Linked DNA regions of Homo sapiens: regions 1, 2, 3, 5 and 6 are each linked to region 4. Evidence: fine-mapped expression QTL. A gene starts in region 4. Each other region holds a variant in brackets. All regions are shown on one strand. Distances are between the middles of the regions. Region 1 overlaps FKBP15 (FKBP prolyl isomerase family member 15). Region 2 holds the start of RNF183 (ring finger protein 183). Region 3 overlaps FKBP15 (FKBP prolyl isomerase family member 15). Region 4 holds the start of FKBP15 (FKBP prolyl isomerase family member 15). Region 5 overlaps FKBP15 (FKBP prolyl isomerase family member 15). Region 6 overlaps SLC31A2 (solute carrier family 31 member 2).

Region 1 (4,089 bases), 49 kb before region 4:
TCATTATGTTGCCCAAGCTGGTCTCAAGCTCCTGGCCTCAAGCAGTCCTCCCACCTTGGCCTCCCAAAATGCTGGGATTACAAGCATAAGCCACTGTGCCAGCTTTGAACAATTTTTTATTCATGATCCCTTAGAAGGTACTTAAGCAACAAAATGCCCAATACGATGAAACAAATGACAGCTGGCTGGCTGTACCTTGATCGTATTCATGATGGTTCCCAGAATGGTCCTGCCATTGTAAGATTCCTCCAGCTCAAACTCTCTCCGTAAGGACTGGAACACCTGGTTCATGATCTTCTTGACCTGTGTGAACATCAAAACACATGCTGTCAAAATCAAGTCACTAAAGGATGCATTAAATTCCAGAGAGGTGTATGGAAGGCCAAAATGAAGCCATCTTAGATCTCTACACTGGGATACTGCTGGTCATAAGCAGAGACACTGAAGGCTGTCACTGTGGAGAGGATGATATTAAATAATGAGCAGCACTTTGACAGAAGGGCTAGTCATGAGAGTTACCTATCAAGGGCAGGCAAGCTGTGGTCTGTGTGCCCAAGACTGCTTAAAGACCATTTCTTGATGTCCCCCTCCCACTGTGAGCACCACTAGGAGCTGCCATAGGCTCTAAGGGTCAGAGGCCAGTGGATGCTGGGCACACTCCCCAAGCCCCATTCTTCTTCTGTGGTTAGAGGCCCTTCCTATACCTGTCAAAACCTCAGAAAGATAGGGTTCTTTTGGGTTTGCCACTTAATATGTAAGTATGTATTTGTTTGTTTTCCCACTAGGCTGTAAGCTCCTTAAACTCAAGAACCAAATCTGGGCCGGGCATGGTGGCTCATGCCTGTAATCCCAGCACTTTGGGAGGCTGAGGCAGGCGGATCACAAGGTCAAGAGACCGAGACCATCCTGGCCAACATGGTGAAACCCTGTCTCTACTAAAAATACAAAAATTAGCTGGGTGTGGTGGCGCGTGCCTGTAGTCCCAGCTACTCAGGCGGCTGCGGCAGGAGAATCGCTTGAACCTGGGAGGCGGAGGTTGCAGTGAGCCAAGATCACATCACTGCACTCTAGCCTGGTGACAAAGTGAGACTCCGTCTCAAACAAACAAACACCAAATCTGGTTCATTTTAAAGTCATCAGACAAGTAAAACATCACTAAAGTTAGAAAAAGAGCTATTAACACAACATACTGGCCATGTTCTTTCTGAATGCTTGATATAAATGGCTTGCTTCTCATTTGAAATACCAGCTCACCTTCTCTGAGGGGTCAGATGCAGCAGCTTCAACCCCAGACATCTGGGACTTGTTCTTCTCTAGTTCCTTGATGTGCTGTTCATTTTGCTTGGTGAGAGCTGTGATTTGGGCCTGGAGGGCTAAACACTGCAAAACAAACAGACTGTGGCTGTGGCCTCAGGAACCAGGTGAAGGTCAGAAAACCCAAGGGGAGGAGAACCACCCAAACATCAAGTCTCTTTTTTTTTTTTTTGCATATAATAAAAAGACAATTTTATTTCAAATTCTTTTTTTTTATTATTATTATACTTTAAGTTCTAGGGCACATGTGCACAATGTGCAGGTTTGATGCATAGGTATACATGTGCCATGTTGGTGTGCTGCACCCATCAACTCATCATTTACATTAGGTATTTCTCCTAATGCTATCCCTCCCCCCGTCCCCCAACCCCCGACAGGCCCCGGTGTGTGATGTTCCCCGCCCTGTGTCCAAGTGTTCTCACTGATCAATTCCCACCTATGAGTGAGAACATGCAGTGTTTGGTTTTCTGTCCTTGTGATAGTTTGCTGGGAGTGATGGTTTCCAGCTTCAACCATGTCCCTGCAAAGGACATGAACTCATCCTTTTTTATGGCTGCATAGTATTCCATGGTGTATATGTGCCACATTTTCTTAATCCAGTCTATCACTGATGGACATTTGGGTTGGTTCCAAGTCTTTGCTATTGTGAATAGTGCCACAATAAACATACATGTGCATGTGTCTTTATAGTAGCATGATTTATAATCCTTTAGGTATATAACCAGTAATGGGATTGCTGGGTCAAATGGTAATTCTAGTTCTAGATCCTTAAGGAATCGCCACACTGTCTTCCACAATGGTTGAACTAATTTACACTCCCACCAACAGTGTAAAAGCGTTCCTATTTCTCCACATCCTCTCCAGAATCTCTAAACATCAAGTCTTAACCTCGCCTAGGTCTGCTGGTGTCCACTCCCTCAGCCCCCACCCA[C/A]GACCCTCTGCCTCAGAGAGTTCTATCTCCTCATCATTCGACTTCAACGCAAAACTTCACTTTCTCTTTCCCAAGAAGGTTGCTTGCCTTGTTCCCAATCAGGTAAAAAATATAATGAAAAAAGAGCAGGAGGGTAGGTAATAACTAGTCATTTAGACATAAACATTCAGCATTAACAGCAACCCATTTGTCATTCATCTGCAAGATTGCCTCCAAGATCTCTGAGCCAAAAGTTTTCAACTGGACACTTTAAGGAAAGAAACTGACCTCGAATATGGACTTTCACACCATGACCCTAAGCCATGTCCCATCTCTCTTTTTCAGGCCTGATGATCCCACCACACCCCAGCCTCCATCCTATCTCAGTGCCTTTGCCCAGGATGTTCTGCCTCCTTTGCTGCCTTACCAAAGCTATTTGTCCTTCTTGGCTCTGCTCAAATGTCACCACCTTTGGGAAACCTTCCCAGCTCTCCTGGGTACTTCCTCTTCTGGGCCCCATAGCACTTAACACCTATCTTTGTTTCTTTGTCTCCCTTTCTTGACTGTGAGATACATGAGGGAAGGGTTCCTTGTATGCACTTCCTTTAACACACTGGATGGAATACAACTGACTCTCAATAAATATTTGCTTAATAAATGAAGGATCCAATAATAATGGGAAACATGTTCCGGAACACTAGTGCTGTTTTCTCTTTTTCCAGGTCACTGACCTATCACCCCACATAAGTATGTGAAAGATAACTGACAAGCTAAACAAGTGTGGTTTTGTCTTCTAGATATTAATAACTTTCAGGCTTAGAAGGATCGACAGGACTCAAACAGCCTGCTTGCCTCAAATTAACTGGGCTGCCTAAACTGTCTGACTCAAGAAAAATATGTACCTTTTCCTGAAGTTGTACCAGCTTCTGCTGGTAGGCATCTCTCTGTGCGCACACCTCCTGGTACTGCTGCAGGTGCTCATCCTTGGCGGAGGCCAACAAATGTTCACATTTTGCTTCCCACTGGGTCTGTAGCTCAGCCTGTACTAAAGACAGCTGCCAAGAGAAAGTAATGACCATATCATCCTTGGGGGTGGGGGAGTGAGATTCCATTGCACCTAGGGAAACCCATCTTTCAAAAAGCAAAAGAATAAGCTAACAGCCCAGATTTAACTGGGAAACTGTTTAAAAGACTCATTACTTTTAAAATAAATGCACTTCTTAAGATGTCATTGGTTGTCAGGACTCCAAAAGGTACTCCAAGCAGACAAAAGTGTGCCTATCTAGATAGGTCCCTGGAGGGCAGGGCCATGTGATCACTGCTTTTCAGGGTCTGAACCCTAAACTTTATAGGTTCAGAAACTTTTTTTCACCAAAATTCCCAGAGGTGGTCAAATTGAGGGCACCAATGCACTCTAATTAAACAAATGTATGCATATAAATTTTAAGCTTATAATGAGAAAGGTTGCTGTTGCACAGACTAGAGATCCAGCTGTGTCCTGCCACTATCCCTGGTTCCCTTCCTGATGACCTAAATCAATCCCTTCTTTTCAAGGATGATAATGTGCCTGAAGGATGGTGTCCAATGGTTGATGGTTTTGGCCTTACCATGTTTGGAATTTTTTTTGTAAGGAAACTATTTTTCATTTTTACTTATGTAATTAAATATTAACTAAGCTTTAAAAAAAGAAAGAAGATTCTCCATTTGATTCCTGGCTCTCCTGCACATATCTGGATTACTTTTTCTACCTTTCTCCAAAGTGAGAGTATCAGCTATGAGAAATGTCATCCTAAAGGGTAAGGAAGAAACCAGAAGCTTTTCTCTCTGAGTCCTTCACACCTTCCCTCTATTTTCAAAGTGCTTCA
Region 2 (4,089 bases), 83 kb after region 4:
GGGCCCTGGCCCTTGCTAAGATCTAAGTGTGGTGATCCATCTAGATAGGTTACTAGCCTTTTGGGATTTTTTGTTGTTGTTTGCAGAAAGCCATTTGATACTCTAAAACCACCCTGTGAGAGAGGCTGAATGGGGAGTAGAAAGGTGCCGGCTTTGGAACCAGATTTGGAACAATTTGTCTTGGACAAATGGCTTAACCTCTCTGAACTTCATTTTCCTCTGTAAAAAAGGCTAATCATCCCACTCCTACAAGGTTGCTCTGGGGAAGGAATAGTCTATACGGTGCCCAGTAGAATACGGAAGGCGCTCAATACAGAGTTAGCATGATTATTTTTAGACCCATTTTCTAGATGGGGAAGCCAAGGCTCAGAAGGGTGAGGCAACTTGCCGAAGTCTTCCCAGCTAAAGAGTGGCTGAGTTTGAAAGATGAACCCAGTAGCCTGCCCTCCCAGGCCAGAGTTCACCTGTCGCGCGCTGCACGGCTGCTGCCTCTCTGGACTCTGGAGCCCTGTGACCCGTCCCTCCGCGACCCTCTCTGTCTCCTTACCTGCTCCCTCGGAGCCGCCTCCTCCGCCTCCGTTCGTGCAGCCCTGCACGCATGTGCTTTGTTTTCTGACTTCCCAGGCCCGATTTCCAGGTAGCGTGGGTGGGTCTTATTTGCATAGGTCTTAGCAGCGTTTGGCCAGCTCTCGCTGTTTCAGGTTTTCTTCTTCCTTCTGGTGACTTTGGACCTCCTGTACACCCTGGAAGCTTTGGTTGCTTTGTCTTTCTCCTGTGAGTCACTCTGGCTTTTTCTCTGAGGGGATCAAGTGCGCTCATCCTTGCAGGCCTCTGTTCTGGGTCCGATTGATCTCCTGCCATCCCCTCGGATTCCACTGTCCTCTGTGCGCTGACCTGCCTCGACTCCTGGCTTCTGCCGAGATGGATCCTTCCCTATGCTGAGTCCCTGTAACCAAAATACAGATAGCTCTTGCAAAATACTGACAAAAGCGGCCACTAATACAGCAGAAAAATAGTCGGGAGACGGTTGAGCGTCTGCCTGAAGAGCCAGGGTTCTCAAGCAAGGCACACTTCTAGGTCAGAGTTCAGCCCTCACTGAGAATCCAAACTCCGTTTAACTACCGATGGAGACTTGAGCAAATTAATTAACTTCTGCCAGCCTCAGTTTCCTCACCTGAAAATGGCCATAATAACCTACCTACTTGATCTGTAGATTAAATGAGGTAATACGTGTCGAGATCGCGTAATAACACAGGGCCTGGCAGACAGTAACTCGCTAAATGTTAACCAGAACTATTATTGTTATAACCGGTCTGTTCACGTGGCCCATCTTTTGTTCCCGCTCAAATTCTTTTTGTACCTATGGTCCTCTTTTCTTTCTCTCTCTCTTTCTTTCTTTTTTTTTTTCTTTCTTTTTTTTTTTTTTTTTTAAGACGTAGTTTTGCTCTGTCGCCCAGGCTAGAGTGCAGTGGGGCGATACTGGCTCACTGTAACCCCCACCTCCCTGGTTCCAGCAATTCTCCTGCCACGGCCTCCCGAGTAACTGGGACTACAGGTGCGCGCTACCATGCCCGGCTAATTTTTACATTCTTAGTAGAGACAGGATTTCGCCTTGTTGGCCAGGCTGGTCTCAAACTCCTGACCTCAGGTGATCCACCTGCCTCGACCTCCCAAAGTGCTGAGATTACAGGCATGAGCCACCGCGCCTGGCCCCTTATTTCTTTACTGACATTTTCAGCCATACTTGAGAAATAAACAAGTAAATAAATGTATCTGCTTGGTGATGTAATCAAATGCCCTAGTCCCCGCATTTTGTGTTTTTTTACATTAATTTTTATGTATTGATTTATTTTGAGACAGAGTCTCACTCTATCATCCAGGCTGGGGTGCGGTGGCACGATCACAGCTCACTGCAGCCTCAACCTCCTGGGGTCAAGCAGTCTTCCCACCTCCGCCTCCTGAGTACCTAGGACTACAGGTGCATGCCACCGTGGCTGGCTAATTTTTGTATTTCTTGTAGAGATGGGGTTTCTCCAGGTTGCCTAGGCTGGTCTCAAACTCCTGGGCTCCAGCAATCCACTTGCCAAAAGTGCTAAGATTACACTTGAGCCACCGTGCCCACATTTGATTTTTAAATAGGTAATATATTTACATGGTTGAGCATGTGAA[T/C]GGTTTGATTTCACAGTGAAAACTGTCTCTTCGCAGCCACCTAGTTTCCCTGGAAATCAAAGTATTATACTATCAGTTTGTTGTGTATCTTTCCAAAGATGTTTTATACATACACAAACAGCATGTCCATGGCAAAACATCTATGTATTCCTTTACCTCCTTTTTACACAAATGTGCATATTATGTACACTGTTCTGCATTTTTCTTTTTTCATTTGATGATGTATTTGAGATATCATTCTGTATTAGTACATAAAGACCTTCTTCGGTTTTTGGCCCAGCGCTGTGACTCACACCTGTAATCCCAGCACTTTGGGAGGCCAAGGCGGGTGGATCACTTGAGGTCAGGAGTTCAAGACCAGCCTGGCCAACATGGTGAAACCCCGTCTCTACTAAAAATACAAAAATTAGCCGGCGTCATGGTGCACACCTGTAGTCCCAGCTACTCAGGAGGCTGAGGCAGGAGAATCGCTTGAACCTGGGAGGCAGAGGTTGCAGTGAGCTGAGATTGTACCACTGCACTCCAGCCTGGGCGACAGAGCAAAAAAAAAAAAAGAAGACCTTCTTCGGTTTTTTAATGGTTGTATCAGATTTCATTGAATGGCTGTACCATAAATCACTTCACCAATCCCCTATTGATCTAACCCCCTCATTATAAATATATAAATATTGAATGAAAGAATAATGCAAAAATGCTGATTTTAAGTTAGCCTAGAATTGTGTGAAAATAAAACTGTGGACTTTGGGAAGTTTTAGATCTCTAAAGAAAATGTCTAAGTAATTCTCCTCTTTCTGAGCTGGAGACGAGGTATATGATCACCGATGGCCTCAAAGTTCCTCTCAGCTCTGGAATTCCCTGCTTTTCGGTGTCACTACTGGTTAACTGAGGTTACTGGGGATTCGAGACACTGATTTAGTCCAAAGAACCTGGTTTGTATTTGAGAGTTTGGAAGTCACGCTTTCTGGCTTGGCAACATAAGAAAACATAAAGAAGTTCATCTACTTTGACCTAATCATGTAATTCCCCAGAAGCATCAAAAAGATATATTTTGGTTGAGTGAGGATATTCATTGCAGTTTTATTTTAATCACAAATGATTGAAAACACTCCAAAACCCCATCAATTAGGTGAAAAACTACATAATCATTTAAAATGATATAGAAAGATTTTCATTGACTTTTAAAAATGGTCACAGTATACTGTAAATGGAGGGGGAAAGCAGCTTAAAAATGGTGCATGTTGGCCGGATACGGTGGCTTACGCCTGTAATCCCAGCACTTTGGGAGGCCGAGGCAGGCGGATCACAAGGTCAGGAGTTTGAGACCAGCCTGGCCAATATGTTGAAACCCCGTCTCTACTAAAAAATACAAAAAAAAAAAAAACTTAGCTGGGCGTGGTGGCAGGTGCCTGTAATCCCAGCTACTTGGGAGGCTAAGGAGGCAGGAGAATCGCTTGAACCTGGGAGGCGGAGGTTGCAGTGAGCCGAGATTGCACCACTGCATTCCAGCCCAGGCAACAGAGAGAGAATCCATCTCAAAAAAAACACAAACAAACAAACCAAAACCAAAACAAAACAAAACAAAAAAACGGTGCATGTTGGCTGGGCACATGCCTATAATCCCAGCACTTTGGGAGGCCGAGGTTGGAGGATTGCTTGAGCCCAGGAGTTCAAGACTAGCGACCCCATTGCTACAAAAAATAAAAAAATAAAAAATTAGCTGGGCGTGGTGGCACATGCCTGTTGTCTCAGATACTCAGAAGGCTGAAGTGGGAGGATCACTTGAGCCCAGAAAGTCAAGGCTGCAGTGAGCCCAGATTGCACCACTGCACTCTAGCCTGGGCAACAGAGCAAAGACCCTGTGAAAGATAGAAAAGAAAAAAAGAAAGAAAAGAAGAAAAGAGAGGGAGAAGGAAGGAAGGA
Region 3 (4,089 bases), 33 kb before region 4:
ACATTGGGGGATGACGGAAATGTTCTAAAATAGGATTGTAGTGATGAATGCACAACTCTGCAAATTTACTAAAACACTTTTGAATTGCACATTTAAAATGAATGAATGTGTGGAATACATATTATATCTCAACAAAGCTGTTAAAAAAGAGAAGAAACAATGAGTAGAGAGCTGTTGGTGTGAAAATGAAGGAGGAGCAAGAAGAGGGAAAGCACAGCAAGAGCGGAAGATGAGAAACTGAGGGAATTACTCCCTACCTTGGAAATGGGGAGGCTGAGAGAGCGGTGCTGGGTACAAAGGCCGAACGGGCTGCAGCTGGGAGGTGACGGCAGATGCCTGGGGATAAGCGTAGGCTTGCATACCTGCATAGGGCTGAGAAACTGACGAGTTACCACTGGTTGATAAAACATTCATGTCTTTCTTTTTTGTTCACATTTTTCTTTGGTGGAATAAAGTGGATGAGCTGGGAGGAGACTCAAACTTACTGAAGCTAGAGATGGGTGAGATCTGGGTTTGGCAGTTGGTAAGGACTGCAGCAGGAGAGTTATCTATGTATCCCAGGGGAAACCAGTCACTAAAATCCTACCCAGAAACTGAAGAAAGTGTATCTTAGGTCACTACCCAGTCATCTGGTGAGATAATTAAGCAGGGATTCATTCCCCATTATCAGGCCTATTGTCTAAGAAGTTTTTAGATTAATAAACTCTGCTTAGCTTCCATTGAGTTTAAAGAAGAAGTGCTCACTGAGATTCCAAACCAAATCTGCCAATTTCCAAGGATGCCTCTCCCCTGCTAGATTCTGAAGCTAATCCACGAGACCAAGAGCTCTCATGTTCCTTTGAGTCTCGGTCACCTCAACTGTAAGAGGAAGATAATAATATCACTTCATAGGGCTGTTCTGTGGACTAAATGAAGTGAGATAGGTAAAGTTCTGAAAAGCTAGTAAGTTACAGGCCTGACAGATAGTAAGCGCTTAATAAACAGCAGCTTTTATTTTAATGAGGATGGTAATTCTTCCTTGAAATAAGGAAGTCTAGCTCATTTCCAGGGATAGATATAACTACGCATCCACTTAAAAAAAATTCTTAGTCTACAGCATAGTAATTCTCCATGGAGGAGAGGAGGGATGGGGAGAAAGAGGGCAACAGTGGGACTTTTTCCAGTTTCGAGACTCCCCATGTTAATGAGGCATAGCCTATCCACCATCATTCCCACACCTCCATTAAGCATCACAAGGAGTGAGCAGCTGTTCCCAGTGACAGTATGCCTTATCCACCAAGTGTGTTGAGGCAGAAGAAAGGGTCTGCTACCCCTGGCAAACAGGCTGCTGCCATTGTTTTCTGTGATAACAGGAAAAAGGCCTTCTTTAAGAAAAGTTTACTAGATAGCAGAGTCAAGCTACATTTTCCACATGGTTCCACTTTTAAACCATACCATTCTGCTGAATATACTGCAGAATGTTAGCCTGCCAACTTTTAGTAGAAAAGAATACAGAAGAACGCGAATATACACGCTTCAACTGGATATGTGTGAAAAGAAAAGGAAACAAACATTGATTGCATCTTTACTACGTTGTACTAGGGGCTCTACTTGTTCTTGCATTTAATCTTTATGACACTGGAACGTAGGTTATCCTTTGCCTGGTTTAGAGATGAGAAAGTGGTAACCAAGGAAGGGAAAAAAATTACAAACTCTGACTTTGGGGAACTGCTACTGTATGAAATGTACAGGAAGAAGAAAAGAGACTGACTAGAACCACAGCAAATTATAGGATATAATTAATACGGTTATAAAATGTTACCTGAAAGGATTGGGCATTTCCAGATACAGCTGAGTGGGAATCGAGAGATGACACTTGCATTAAGGCAGCAGAAGGTGCCTGGAGCCCAGTAACAGATGGCTGAGGTGCTAAGATAAAGGGAGACATTTTCACTGTTATCCACCCTTGCTTCTTGGTGTGAGTCTAGACTAGCACCTTACATACTATCATGCTTCAGACTCAACTATTTTCCTTGCCTAGTCTCCCTACACTCAGCTCTACTGCAATCTCAGGAATGAGCCAGTGGAAGGAAACTGGGTGCTCTCATGTGCTTCTGACTCAGCCCTAGGATCCCACCC[G/A]ACAGGAAGTGCAGAACACACCCAGGGAGATGTCTCAATAGCTGAGTGCAGATTTCCAAAACTGACAGTGCAACACAGCAGAAGTCACAACCAGCAGCCAGGTCCATCTCTGGGTATGAAAATGCCTTACCCAGGGACAAACTGACAAGCGTCACACTCTTACATTTACACTTTAGTCCTCAGTACTGAAACAATGCAGCCTAACAGTTTAAGGAACAGTGACGATAATTTTCATGCTGACCCAGTTCAAGGCCACAGAGCCTCAGAGAGGTTCCTTACCCTGTGAGGTCATCTGTGGTAACGCTGGATGGGCCGGATGAAGAGAGGGCTGGACGGACGGAGTCACCACAGGCTGCCCACCTCCTTGCAGAGTGTTCACATCCTGAAACAGGAACAAGCGTTTGGGTTACTCTGTACGGGGTCCCTCATTGAAGACTGAGGCTGACTGTCTGCCCTAAACCTGCTTCCAACACAGGATTTCTAGGCAAAGAAGAGGAAGGAAAGGTAAGCGGAAGGCCAAGAGTTGAGGGTGTGGGTTGTGGAGAAAAAGCACTCTGCTATGCAATAAAGTAAGAGTCCTTCTCCCTATAATCATATTGAATAAGTAAATATAGTTAATTTCCACAAATATTCTCAGAGGTTGATGTTCTATTGTCTGAAGCAGCTAAACTAACCACTCTTCAGAATGTATCATTTTCCAAGCCAGTAACTGCCTTAAGACAAATCTAATCTATTCCCACAAAAAAAGTGGTCTTTTGCAAGAAATAATCCAGCCTCTTCGCTTCTTACAAATCATCCCCATAGTCCTCAAGGTACTCAATGAAAATCAGATAACGTAGGATTCACTGCACCTGATTAACATGCTGTTTTTGGATAATATAGTTTTAGGATGTTTTTCCAACATTCTTTATTTTCATAAAACCAAAGCTTTTCATAAAATCAAAGCTATAACTCTAAACAAAGTTATTCTACCTCCTGCTTCATATAAGAAACAGAAAATCTTGAGGCACAATATACAGTGACTGTAATCTGCTATGCTATAGTTCAAAGACCAAAGTTTCAGACATTCTTTTACTTTAGAACTTCACCTTGTCCCCTTATATTCTCTTCTAGAAAAACATCCCAGTTTTAGATTTCTACAGCTCTTAACCAACCTAAATGTCTAATAACAGAGTGAAAGGAATTATAATAAAATGATATAATGGAACACTGGGTTTCCTTTAAACCACTTTATTTACTTAAATCATTTATGTTAATGTAAATGTTTATGATACAACATTAGGTTTAAAAATCAGGTTACAAAGCAATATATAAAGATGAATGCCCTTTTTGTTCAATATGTTTCTTTTCTATAATTTTAAATTATTCTAAAATGAATAAGTAGCACATAAAATTTTTAATAAAAATATTCTTATTTACACTGCATTTCCAGACCAGAAAAAAATAATCCTATAACAATAGGCCTCAGAAATCCTATCTTCCTTTAAGATGTTAAATCTACATAGAGCTTTTCCAAGAAATAAAACAAAAATGTAAAATATAAAGTATATTCCAGAAAAAATTTTTTCAAGACCATCGCCCTTTCCTTGTTTTCTATCAAAGTAAAAGAATACTAAAAATCAGTCTAAGTTATATATTTCACTTCAATTGAGAAAGGACGATTATATTCAATAAAGAACTAACCACTAGAGAAGAATTAAGTTAAAATTAAGTTACTTTATAGCATACACCAAATTCCAAATGGATTAAAAATTTAGATCTAATTATAAAATATTGATCAATATCTTTAAAAATACATGTGATATTTATAATCTGAAAGTGGAGAGGCTTTCTAAGCATAATGTCAAAAGCAAATAACAAGGGGAGAAAATTGACAGACTTGAATTCAATAAAATTATTGAACTTCTAAATAGAAAACAAACACAAGAATACCACATACAAAGTCAAAAGACATACTAGTTGGAGCTTTAG
Region 4 (4,089 bases):
TTTTATTCTACTACTAAAATAAAAGTTTCTTAGGGGCAGAAACTGTGCCTTATTCCTATCTGGATTAGCTGAAGCCAAGTACTATTAGTTCATTACTATTACTTCCCACAACGGTGAGGAATGGGCTAAAACAAACTAACAAACAAAAACAAGGCTCCTGATTACTACTTCTAGATTAATAGTAAACTCTAAGAGGCCTAGAAACTCAGAAGGCAGATTATCAGATACTCCTACTTCTATTAGGCTTGAATATCCTTCATGAAATCAAGCAAATCATGTGTTTAAATCAAGAGACTTGGAACTTAAGCAAGTATACTTACAGTAATATATGGCTATAAAAGAGGAAGTGAAAAGTAGCTGCAGTATTCACTGTCATATGTTCTACTTCCTTAGAGAAAACCAAAAAAGGAATAGCTAAATCAGAGAATTGTGGTGAAACTTTCTGTATTCTCAGTGTTAAATTTGATTTGGTTTTCCTGATAACTGTGGGGAACAAAAATAAACTATAACTTTCCTCAGTATGTCTTTTACCATCAAATTAGCTGTTGTCTATGTCTAGGAGCACAGTCACATGCCTAGAATTCAAGTGTCTCAGATCCTTGAGAAGCCTGCTCAGGAAAAAAGAATAGTTGAGCCACCAAGAATTTATCTCTGGCCAGGAATCTGGAAAAGAGCACATGGCTGTCATTACCTATCCCATAATTTTCAGTCAGCTTGGACTGATTGTTGCATGAAAATTGGGAGCCCTAACATTACAGACTTCTCCCAAATACTTTCACATAGTGAAGAATGCGAATTTAAAGTGGAATAGGGAAAAAAGGAACAAAAGCACAGCTTAACTGTAAAATAACTGAGAAACGGAAAGAACTCAAAGTGGAACTAAGTGAATGCAGGCCATCTAAAGACGGGGTAGGAAGGGAACAGAGTGGTGAGAGTGAAAAAGACTAAAAGGTAGGTAATATAGAGCTAGTCAGTGTAAATCAAAAATTCCTACTTAAGGACAAAAGAAGGCCAGTGTCATTTTATGGTCATTCATCTATTAACTCATTTGTTTATGTATTGTCTATGACTACTCTCACCCTACAAGGCAGAACTGAGTATTTGTGGTTGCAATAGAAACCACATGGCCCAACAGATCTGGAAGCAACTTAAGGGCAGGCACAGCAGTTTAATCATTTTTGTAACCTCTTAGCATTTAGCAGAATAAGGGGCATATGTGGTGCATTTGTCATTTTTCCAGTACATTCTTCAGCACGCACAAAATTTGTTAAGCATATGTTCAAAGAAAAGCTCTGCAATGATCAGAGCTTGGTAGCTCACAAGTTTGGAGGAAGTCAAGCTGTCCACTGGCACAACACAATGGAAAAGGCTAAACTGACTACTAAAAGAGACAAAACCCTTCCTCTCTTTAAAGATTTCTATTCCAGGCTGGTATATATTAATATAATGCTTGGGGAAACTGGAGAATGACAGAAGTCTGTTACGTTGGTTTTAAGCTTTAAGCTTTACAAAGTGCAATTTCGCAGCTATTATTCATTCAACAGCCACTTCCTGAGCACTCACTATGTGCTAGGTACCATGCTGCATGCTAGACAGAAATGAACACCATAAGCAGTCCCTGTCCGGTGAGGACTCATAATCTAATAGGTGCGGGGTATAAGAATAGAGGCAAACACACCTAGCTGCAGGAATAAGGAAGAGAAAGCAATTCATTCTGCCTGAGGTTGCAGAAGGAAAAGCATCCAAAACGTGACATCCGAGCTGGGCCTTGAAGAATGCTAGAGCTGACCCACCAAGGCCTGGTTCTAAAGTGTCTTCGCCTTCTCCATGGAGAAAAGAAGTCTCACATCAGCCCCAGCTGACTCCTATAAAAATTCTGAGGCAGGAAGTCTCATCAGCAATCATTCCCATTTCACCGGAGAAATTGTGACCCAGAATGCAAAAGGCAAACCCAGGGCTATCTTCCCGCCAAGAGAGATGCCGGGTCCCGAACCTCAGATCGGCAGGGTCAGCACAGTTGCAAGTTCTGCCCAGATTCTGAGAGGTGTAGAGCACCGGAATGTGGCAAGGGTCTCCCCCCGGAAGTTGGGAAAAGGCCTGAGAAGAGATCGACCCCCCTCCAACAATCCGCCGGTATCTCTCAGCCACGCCCTCCAGCGCATACTTCTCAGTCACTCACCCGCCGCTCGGCGAGAGGAAATCGGTGTCGTCCTCGTCCCCCGCACCGAACATTGCGTTGGCTTTCACCGGGTTGCGGGGAGGAAGCTGGGTATTCCCAGAGTCCCAGGGCCTGTCACCGCCGACGTCGTAAAATGCCGCGGCGGCGTGCTGCTTTCCGGCAGGGCGAACTCCAGCACGGTCTCTGGACCGAAAGTAGACTGGGCTCTGGAGAAGGTGGGGCAAAGGCAAATGAGAGGCTCGCGCGGGCACGAGCGCCGAGTGACGTCAGGCCTCTCCAGCCCGCAGCGGGGCGGAGCTTCACAGCCCCTTGCAGGGATTGGTCGGTAATGCTAGGGGGCGGGAGGGGGCGGGAAATCCTCGGCCTCGGTGGCGGTGGTGGACACGTCGAGCCGGGTAGAAGTGGAGGGGCCGTTCGAAGAGTCGTGAGGGGGTGACGGGTTAAGATTCGGAGAGAGAGGTGCTAGTGGCTGGACTTGACCTGGAAAGGTAAGGCTTCTCTCGGCCCCTCTTTCGCACCCCTGTGCATGGGTACCGTCCTTTTCCCAGCGGGACAAGGACCTTCCTCGCCGCTTTCCTCAGCTCCGCGGAAGGAGAAAGAGCTCGGGACTGGAGGGTTAAAGACTGGGGCTTCGGCCCGGCCCCTGCAGTGGCATAGCCAGAGTGACCTTGGGCCGGGGTGCTCGGTGCCTCAGTTTCCCCGTGTATGCAACCGGCCATTTGTCCAGTTCTTCCATGTGCCTGCTGGTCCAGAAGATTTTAGAGCTCAGAGGCCATGGATTTCAATCCCGGCCTCCTCGTAATCTCAGAATTTACAGATAGGGAGACGAAGGAACTAAGCACCCGGGTGACTAGTCCGAGGTCACAAAGAGTAAAGGGCAGACTGAGACTGGATTCCTCGTCCTTTGATTCAGGACATAGTGAGCTAGTGGGTGAACAAGAACCTTATCAGCCCTTAAGCACTGTGTGCCCTTACAGAGTGACTATTGAAAGACTGTAGCATACACCTCGAGGAAAGTCCCCTTTCTAGAGTCCACCTGTATTCTACGCGGATGAGGTGCAGAAGAGCTAAGATATTCTGGCGGTGGGTGATGGAAAGGAGGATACTTTGGAGGCAGACACATCCCCACCCCAACTTTGGCGTGGGTTTCCCTGGGTCTTCCTGCGACAGCCCTAAATCAACATCAATTGTGGCGGACTCCTCTGCCTCCAGTTTCCACCCTATCTGTATCTTACATAAGTATTTCTTTGGTTAACCTGGTATCATTCTCGAAACAATCCTGGGGTAGTCCTGGCTTAGACAAGGTGTGGCTAAGGAGATAGTGTCCCAGCGTAGCGTCCACAGACTCACTGGAGTTCTTGGGCTTCCCCTCACAGTCAGGTTGGTACTACAGGTGTCCCTTACGTGAATGTTTCAATCTGTCAGTATGAAATTGAAATGAAATGATTGGTAGCTCCCTCCCAGAGAACTTTGCACCTCCTGGCAAAGATGTTAAAGCAGCGAAGGCTCACAGTTGGAATGATGCAACTGGAATCTAAGCACTAGAACCGGAACTGGAACTAGAATCTAAGGACTAGCACTAGAACTGTTGCAGTAGCTCTGTTTAGTGTGTGAACTTGGCTACCTCTTGGAGGTGTTGGGGGAGTAACTGGATTAAGTACCATGGCACTTTCTAATCCCTCTCCCCAACACCGGTCACTGTGATTGCAGCACTGAAACATCTAAATGTTTAACAGAAAGAGCTTGCTAGCCCCTGGCTTACATTATCTATGGTATTTTTAACATGGAATGAATACTTAAAGTCACTTGCAAAGCAGTCTCACTGCAGAATCTTTCTAGGTGTTTATGACATGTCCTTCCAGCCTTTTCTTTAAAAAAAAAAAATGGCCAAGGGAATATTTGAACTCTTA
Region 5 (4,089 bases), 21 kb before region 4:
CTTTTTGCCACACAGATGAATGAGTACAGCATGATGCACCATCACTACTATGTCCTGACACCATAATATACCACATGTGTAAAACATTCTTTATTTTATAAAACACCTGCACAGTTAATAAAGAAAAAATTCACAACTTGAACCCAAGTTCTCGGATTTCAACCCCAGTGCTCCTCCTGCTGCTGTCACAGTTGCCTTCTACAGTGATTGGAAAGTGCTGATTCAAAGCAATCCAGACAGATGAGATTCAACCCTTTATGATAAGTTTCGAGAAGAAACTGTCTCACTTTTTCCCCTGTTAGGCTATAGGAAGGATGAAATAATATTCTCAGAGTCATAGAATGGAAAAGAAAAGGTCAGGACTACAGAAAACAATTGTAACCATCTTCAATGTAGTGTCTCATAGATAAAAATCTCCCAAATGCAATGTAACACATTTTCCCCTCGTATTCTTCATCCAGGCATTTCCAGATGTCAAAAAGATAACCTGATTAGAAATTCCACAGGCCGGACATGGTGGTTCATGCCTGTAATCCCGGCACTTTGGGAGGCTGAGGCGGGTGGATCACCTGATGTCGGGAGTTTGAGACCAGCCTGACCAACATGGAGAAACTCCATCTCCACTAAAAATACAAAATTAGCTGGGTGTGGTGGCGCATGCCTGTAATCCCAGCTACTAGGGAGGCTGAGGCAGGAGAATCGCTTGAACCTGGGAGGTGGAGGTTGCAATGAGCCAAGATCGTGCCATTGCACTCCAGCTTGAACAACAAGAGCGAAACTCCGTCTCAAAAAATAAAAATAAAATAAAAAAAGGAATTCCACAAAATTTAATCTAAGTTAAACCCACTGCAACTGATAAAACCATAAAAAAACACAGTTAAGCCTTTACCTTGATGACTTTTCCTGATCCTAACTTCAAGCGAAGCAACTTATCTTTGTTAGCAGTGGAGTCGAAAACCTGCAATTTGATCGAAGGAAATTAGGCCAGCCAATTTCAAAAATAATAATAACCATTATGATATTCAACTAACTACATACCAGCACACTACTTCTGGAATAGGGAATGTCAAATATACTGGGAAGATAGTTTCTAAAGGACCTGAAATATTAGCCCACATCATAGCTAAAGGGTATTATAATGAATATCTCTGAAACAGTAATTTTCCAGGTTTAGAAAAAAAACACATTACTACAACTGTGTATTTAAGCATTTTTCATCCACAATACACTTTCAAATAAATTATCTCATTTTGATGCTGACACTAACCCTGCCGAGTAAGCAGAGCAAGATCATTAGCCTCCATTCACAAATGGAAAAAAATAAGAGTATAAATGACTTGATCAAAGTCAAATTAGTATATAATTGGATCTCTAATTCAGATTTTTCTAAACTCATAGTCTAAAGGTCTTTCTCTCATATAATATATTGCTTTTAAGGGCTCAATAATATTAAAACACAGTAAGTTCAATGTATTTACAGTATCTACTATAAGAAAAACTATAAGGAGGGTCTAAAAAGAAGTTTTAAGACTTAATCCCATAAGAATATATTCAAGTGTAAAACTGGTATAGGAGGACAAGACATACACATGAACAACTAGCAAAAA[T/C]AATAGTACTGGGGAAATTGGTTCCCACTTTCCCTAAGTAGAAGTGACAGGGTGGCACTGAGGATCTTTTACACATTCACATTTCATAATATGCCCCCAAAGCAATTGCAGTGTCTAAAGTGGGGATCCTAAAATATTTCTATTTGACAACAGCAGCCGTTCACAGTAATAGTATCTTCCCTGGGAATAGCCCTCATGCTATATAAGTTTACAAAAGAACTTGCAGGGTGCATTTTCTTACCTGGCCCAGCACATGATTCTGAAAGAGCCAGCCGGTATAGGCCACTTCCAAAGAATCTCCAACTTCTACAGCAGGGCCGTCTGCCACAATGAGGTCCTGGGAGAGCACTGCATCCAGGGAAGAGGTACTGTTGCACTTAGCAATGCACACCTGCAAGACAAAATCAAAGCAGCATAAATGTAGTTTAAGCTCAATAAGTACTCATTCCTTTATTGCTACTGCTCTTTCTCAAATAGCTTCATCCACTAACAAAACAGATTACATGTTTAGAAGTAAACCAAACGGAAGCCAGTTATCTTGCCAGGGATCAAAGTGCCTAGGAGTATGGCTTTGCAGTCAGAATGTCTGGGTACAGATCCAGGCACTGCCACTTATTAACTTTGTGACCCTAGCCAAATAATCTCTATGTACCCAAGATGGAGATGATGCTTCACAAATCTCATAGGATGGTTATGAAAATTAAATGAGCTAATATAAGTAGAGTACTTGACAAGGTACCTGGCAAATAATAGTAAGTACTTAATAAACATTAGCTATTGATGATGATACTGATTTACTGTTTCAGTGTTTGGGAACCTAGGAAAGAAAGGGGAGCTTTGAAAAAACGTCAGAAGGCACTTCTAAAGACTGCAGTAGAAAGAAGGGCATTTAAAAAATCATGTTGCATTCCCAGAATCCACATCAATACTATCTACAGATTTGGCCATATTATCTTAGCACAAATCTTAGACAAAGGAGTCAGGGGCATCTTTGTGAATAATTATTCTATTCTATTTATGAATAATTATTCTTGGGCTTGTGTTTTAATATTATTAAGCCCTCAAAAGCAATATAGTATGAAAGATCTTTATGAGTTTAGAAAAATGTGGATTTGAGACCCAATTTTATCAGTGTTTTAACATAGTATCCATTAGGAACTTGCGGCTCATTTTCTTTTAAAAAGTTTCAGAGGCTGGGTACGGTGGCTCACACCTGTAATCTCAGCACTTTGGGAGGCCGAGGTGGGCGGATCACAAGGTCAAGAGATCGAGACCATCCTGGCCAACATGGTGAAACCCTGTCTCTACTAAAAATACAAAAATTAGCTGGGAGTGGTGGTGTGCGCCTGTAGTCCCAGCTACTTGGGAGGCTGGGGCAGAAGAATCGCTTGAACCCGGGAGGCGGAGGTTGCAGTGAGCCGAGATGGCACCACTGCACTCCAGCCTGGCGACAGAGCAGGACTCTGTCTCAAAAAAAAAAAAAAAAAGAGTTTCATTATTGTAATCAAATAAAAACAATGAGGCATCATTTTTTTTTTTTTAACCAAGTGAAGAAGACCAAAAGAAAAAAAGGATCATTCTAAATGCTGGCAAAGGTACGATGAGAAAATTGATATAAATGTGAAATAGTACAATCTCTCTGAAAAGCAGTGTGCCAAAGTGTATTAAGAACCTAAAAATATCTGGACCTTTTGACCCAATCACTCACTTACTGAAATAAAGCTTATGGAAATATGTAGGGGGGAAAAAAGGACAGACTTCTATAAAAAATGCTCACCACGGTATCATTTACTGCAGAGACAGAAAACAATCTAAATGCACAACATAAGGTAATGATTACATCAATTAAGAAACAAATGTTATGGGCTGAATGTTTGTGTCCCCTCCGAATACTTACACTGAAATCCTAATTCCCAGTGTGACAGTATTAGGAGGTGGGGCCTTTGGGAAGTAAGTAAGCCAGGAGGGTGGAGCCCTCATGAATGGGATTAGGGACCTTATTAAAGAGATACAGAGAACTCTCTCACCCTCTTTCTACCATGTGAGGATACAAGAAGAAGATAGTCTGCAACCCAGAAGAGGGTCTCACTAAAACCCGACCGTGCTGGCACCCTGATCTCAGACTTTCAGCCTCGAGAACCGTGAGAAATAAATTTCTGTTGCTTAACCAGACTATGGTAATTTGTTACGGTAGCTTGAACTGACAACATGCATATTATGCAGCCTTCAAAAATGTTTCCAAATAGTTTTTCATGAGGTAGGAAAAGATGAATTATACATTTTTAAATAAAATAAGCATGATAAAGAACTATTAAAGGACTGTATCTACTTATGTATATTATGCATAGAAAAAAGGAAATATGTTAATAGTGGTTACTTTGAGTAGTAAGACTATGAGTGATTTTTTTTAATGCTTTTCTAAATTTTCTACAATGAGTATGTAGTAACTTAACTCTCTTTCTTGCTCTCTCTATCTCTTTCT
Region 6 (4,089 bases), 62 kb before region 4:
CATGGTCACTGCTTTTACCTGCAGTCTTTCCTGTAAGGCTGTGAACTCACCAAGGTCAGAGACATTAACCTACTTCCATAATGCTTGGCACACAAACTGGGCTCAGCAAATGTATAGTGAATGAGTAGGCAGATGTGGAGTACAGTGAAGACAGCTGCCTCTGGGCCCCTCCACGATAAACACTGTGGGATCTGTCTAGACTGAACAGGACAAAGAGGACTCCAGGCTTCCATCACACGGGAGCCTGTTCTGGAGCTGCAGCAGAATGGCTAGGGTCCCGGGGGGGTAAGAAGAGGCAGTTGCACTTGGAAGGCATGGAGGGGACATCCCCACATAGTCTGAGGACACTGTCACATCCCGAGCCAGTTGGTCCAGTGAGGATGGACACTCCCACACCTCTATTCTCATATGGAGCATGGCCAGCTCAATTATAGCTCTGCTGCTGACCCTCTTGGGCAAGTCTCAGCTCTTTATGGCCTCAGTTGGCCCTGATGACTTCTGATGGCCCTTCCAGCACTTCCAGTGACCCCATTTTTCTGGGCTCCCAGAGGAGGTGCTGGAGAGCATTAAGGACCGTAACTTCCACTGCCCTGTGCCCCTATGATGCAGATTCCTTTCTCTTTCAGATGCATTTCATCTTCTCAGATACAGCGGTGCTTCTGTTTGATTTCTGGAGTGTCCACAGTCCTGCTGGTAAGAATTGGGGACCTCAGACTTGTAGCTTGGAAAGCCTTGTAGTACTAGGCAAGGGAGAATCTGGGTTCTCTTGATTCTCTGTGGGCATTTAAGTGAGGCTGATTCCTCTGGCATAAACACTGAGCAGGAACTTCACAGTTATAATTCCATTTGTAACCACTCCCCTTCAGATCGCAAAGGGCTCCATTATCTTACTGATCCTCACAAAGGCCGAGAGGCAGGGAGGCAGCTTTTCCCTCTGTTACAGGGCAAGAAACTAAAGCCCAGAGACAGGAAGAGAGACTCGTGCAGGGTCACACAGTAAGTACGCATCAGAGCCACTACTAGATCAAGGCCTCCGGGTGTCACCTGGCACCTCCCTTATCCAGGGCTCATTGTTCTGCACCAGTTCAGAAGCCCACAGCAGCTGCTGGAGATGAGACACCAATTTGAAAGGAAAGAATATTCCTTTGATTTGAAAAGGCAGAGTTTGTCACTAATTCATGAAGAAGTTATTTTTCAACTTAAATAACTGCATCTTAAAAAGAGACTGGAAACAGCCCAAATGCCCATTATTGCGGGTGCAGATTAAATAAATTATGGTCAGCCCTACAATGGGTTACTATTTCTTGTTATCTATTGCTGAATAAACAGTGGCTTAAAACAAGTCATTTTATCATTCTCTCTCAAGGTTCTGTGAGTTGACTGGACCCAGGTGAGTGGTCCTTACTGAAGGTCTCTCATGCAGTATAGTCAAACAGTGGCTGGAAGTAGGGTCATTTGGAAGAGTTCCTCACTCTCATGCCAAGTGGCTGATACTGGTTGTTAGCTAGGACCTCAGCTGGAGTTGTTGGCTG[A/G]ACACCTACATGTGGCATCTCCTATGGCCTGGGCTTCCTCGTGGCAGAGTGGCTAGATTCCAAGATCGAGTGTCGCAAGAGAACAAGGTAGAAGTACGTGGGATTTTCAAGACCTAGCCTTGGAAATCAGATAAAATTACTTCTACCTTTATTGGCTGAAGCAGTCACGAAGGTCTTCCTAGGCTAAAGGAGAGGGAACAAACATGGACCCCACCACTTGATGGCAGGAGTGTTGACATCATAAGAAGGGGATGTGGGGTGGGATACATTGGAGTGGCTGTCTTTGGAAAATGTAATCTATCACAGATACGATGAAGCCACTGGGGAAAAGGTAAATCTGTGTGAACTGAGGTAAAACTGGATGATAAAGTCAAATGCAAAACAGTATGCGTAGATAGGATGCTGTCATTTGGACAAACAGAGGCTGATATATACATTGAGTAACAGAGGTTGCTCTGGGGAGGAGAATTGGGGTGAAGAGAGATTGGGGTGGGAAGAAAACTGATCTTTCTCTTTTTTTGAAATGGAGTCTCTGTCGCCCAGGCTGGAATGCAGTGGCGCGATCTTGGCTCACTGCAATCTCCACCTCCCAGGTTCAAGCAATTCTCTTGCCTCAGCCTACCGAGTAGCTGGGACTACAGGCAGGCACCACAATGCCCAGCTAATTTTTCTGTATTTTTAGTAGAGACAGGGTTTCACCACGTTGGCCAGGCTGGTCTCAAACTCCTGACCTCAAGTGATCCACCCACCTCGACCTCCCAAAGTGCTGGGATTACAGGCATGAGCTACCACACCCGGCCTGAATTTTCATTGTATTCTTTTTTGCACTGTTTGAAGTTTCACCATGTACATGAAATTACCTATAATTTTATGTTTTAAAAACCTGCATCTGTCAGATGATTTCCTCCTGGGAGCCTGTGGGAAAAAAAACCCAACTTTTTCCTTTTCCTACGCTCCACACACTTCTGTGACCAGATGTGTAGGCTTTCCCTCAGTGACAACTTTTCTGATACCAGCTGGGTGTCCTACAACTCAGTTCAAATCTGACACTAACCAGAGTTAGTGCAGATCCCACAAGTTAAGGGTACAGTCCCACAAGGCTGCCCCCTGCTTCAGGCACCAATTGCAAGTCCCAGCTTGTCTCCCGTACTTCTGGCCAACTGGCTATATGTCAGGGTTCCCATAACGCCTTTGTTGGGATCAATTATTTGATAGAATGGTTCACAACACTCAAGGAAACACTTAAAAAGAGTACAAATGGGCCAGGTGTGGTGGCTCATGCCTGTAATCCCAGCACTTTGGGAGGCCGAGGCGAGTGGATCACCTGAGGTTAGGAGTTCAAGACCAGCCTGACCAACATGGTCAAACCCCGTCTCTACTAAAAATACAAAAAAATTAGCCAGGCGTGGTGGGGGGTGTCTGTAATCCCAGCTACTTGGGAGGCTGAGGCAAGATAATTGCTTGAATCCTGAGGCAAGATAATTGCTTGAATCCAGGAGGTGGAGGTTGCAGTGAGCCAAGATTGCGCCACTGCACTCCAGCCTGGGCAACAGAGCGAGACTCCATCTAAAAAAAAAAAGTACAATGAATAGCTGTGTGGAAAAGATGCATGGGGCAAGGCATGTAGGAGGGGGTTCAGAGCCTCCAGGCCCTCCCTGGGCTTGCCACCTTCCAGGTACCCCCATGTGTTCACAGCAGCTGGAAGCTTTTCAAATCCTGTCCTTTTAAAAAAAATTATTCATATATAATAGTTGTACATGTTTTGGGGTACACGTGATATTTTGATACCTATATACAATATGTAATGATCCAATCAGGGTGACTGGGGTGTTTATCACCTCAAACATTTATCTTTGTGTTGGGAACATTACAATTCTATTTTGAAATATACAATAAATTATGGTTAACTATAAATTTCCCTACTGTACTGTCGAATACAACAACTTATTCCTTCTATCTAAACTGCATTCTTTTGGGTTTCTATGGAGTCTTCATATGGAGGAATGATTGATGACCTCATTGGCCACTGGTGATCAATTCAACCTTCAGTCCCTGTCTCCTTCCAGAGGTAGGGAGTGGGGCTGAAAGTGCCAACCTCCAAGCACAAGTTTGGCTCCCCTGGCAACCAGCCCCCATCCAGGAGCCTCAGCCATCAGTCATCTCATTAGCATATAAAAAGACACCACTTGACAGCGTTTCCAAGGGTTCTAGAAGTCGTGTGCCAGGAAACCAGGGCAGAAACAGGATATATATCTCTTATTATGTCGCAGAGTCCAGTAAAATACTTTAGCTGGACCACTTATTATCCCTCTTAGTGAAACAAAAGTAGTAATTAACAGTTAATTTTACACAGCAGCTCTAATAAGCACTTGATAGTTTTGGTAAAATAATTTATTGGGTTTTTCCCCTATTATAAAAGTAATATATATAAAAGAAACCTTAGAAAGTTAGGCAAGAACATAAAAACCACCTGTATCCTACTTTGCTGAGATAACTATTACTCTTGTGCTATTTATCTTTCCTTCCAGACATTTTTTGCATACTTACATATAAATAG

What was found. PIP is the estimated chance that this variant, and not a neighbour inherited with it, causes the effect.
Region 1: its variant is fine-mapped to the expression of FKBP15 in whole blood (GTEx, PIP above 0.99).
Region 2: its variant is fine-mapped to the expression of FKBP15 in whole blood (INTERVAL, PIP 0.91).
Region 3: its variant is fine-mapped to the expression of FKBP15 in whole blood (TOPMed, PIP above 0.99).
Region 5: its variant is fine-mapped to the expression of FKBP15 in whole blood (INTERVAL, PIP 0.94).
Region 6: its variant is fine-mapped to the expression of FKBP15 in whole blood (INTERVAL, PIP above 0.99).

Annotation. Positions count from the first base shown.
Region 1 is chr9:113,170,327-113,174,415 of GRCh38, forward strand. It overlaps FKBP15 (FKBP prolyl isomerase family member 15), which reads right to left. Exons shown (of 28, transcript NM_015258.2): 23 at 3,127-3,279; 24 at 1,255-1,380; 25 at 196-303. Among named protein-coding and RNA genes, the nearest start is that of SLC31A2, 21 kb to the left of the region's middle. The variant C/A (reference allele first, on the strand shown) is at 2,246.
Region 2 is chr9:113,302,509-113,306,597 of GRCh38, forward strand. RNF183 (ring finger protein 183) reads right to left here and starts at 868. Exons shown (of 5, transcript NM_001371237.1): 1 at 548-868. RefSeq lists an enhancer at 3,139-3,308. The variant T/C (reference allele first, on the strand shown) is at 2,170.
Region 3 is chr9:113,185,992-113,190,080 of GRCh38, forward strand. It overlaps FKBP15 (FKBP prolyl isomerase family member 15), which reads right to left. Exons shown (of 28, transcript NM_015258.2): 13 at 2,398-2,500; 14 at 1,802-1,908; 15 at 258-372. Among named protein-coding and RNA genes, the nearest start is that of FKBP15, 33 kb to the right of the region's middle. RefSeq lists an enhancer at 1,544-2,743. The variant G/A (reference allele first, on the strand shown) is at 2,119.
Region 4 is chr9:113,219,012-113,223,100 of GRCh38, forward strand. FKBP15 (FKBP prolyl isomerase family member 15) reads right to left here and starts at 2,266. Exons shown (of 28, transcript NM_015258.2): 1 at 2,180-2,266. The coding sequence starts at 2,232. It overlaps SLC31A1 (solute carrier family 31 member 1), which reads left to right and starts at 2,533. Exons shown (of 5, transcript NM_001859.4): 1 at 2,533-2,667. RefSeq lists enhancers at 2,065-2,194, 2,305-2,414, 3,255-3,444.
Region 5 is chr9:113,197,966-113,202,054 of GRCh38, forward strand. FKBP15 (FKBP prolyl isomerase family member 15) reads right to left here. Exons shown (of 28, transcript NM_015258.2): 7 at 1,849-1,998; 8 at 890-958. Among named protein-coding and RNA genes, the nearest start is that of FKBP15, 21 kb to the right of the region's middle. The variant T/C (reference allele first, on the strand shown) is at 1,608.
Region 6 is chr9:113,157,101-113,161,189 of GRCh38, forward strand. It overlaps SLC31A2 (solute carrier family 31 member 2), which reads left to right. Exons shown (of 4, transcript NM_001860.3): 2 at 627-693. FKBP15 (FKBP prolyl isomerase family member 15) reads right to left here. Exons shown (of 28, transcript NM_015258.2): 28 at 3,906-4,089. Among named protein-coding and RNA genes, the nearest start is that of SLC31A2, 8.1 kb to the left of the region's middle. RefSeq lists a silencer at 823-1,024. The variant A/G (reference allele first, on the strand shown) is at 1,533.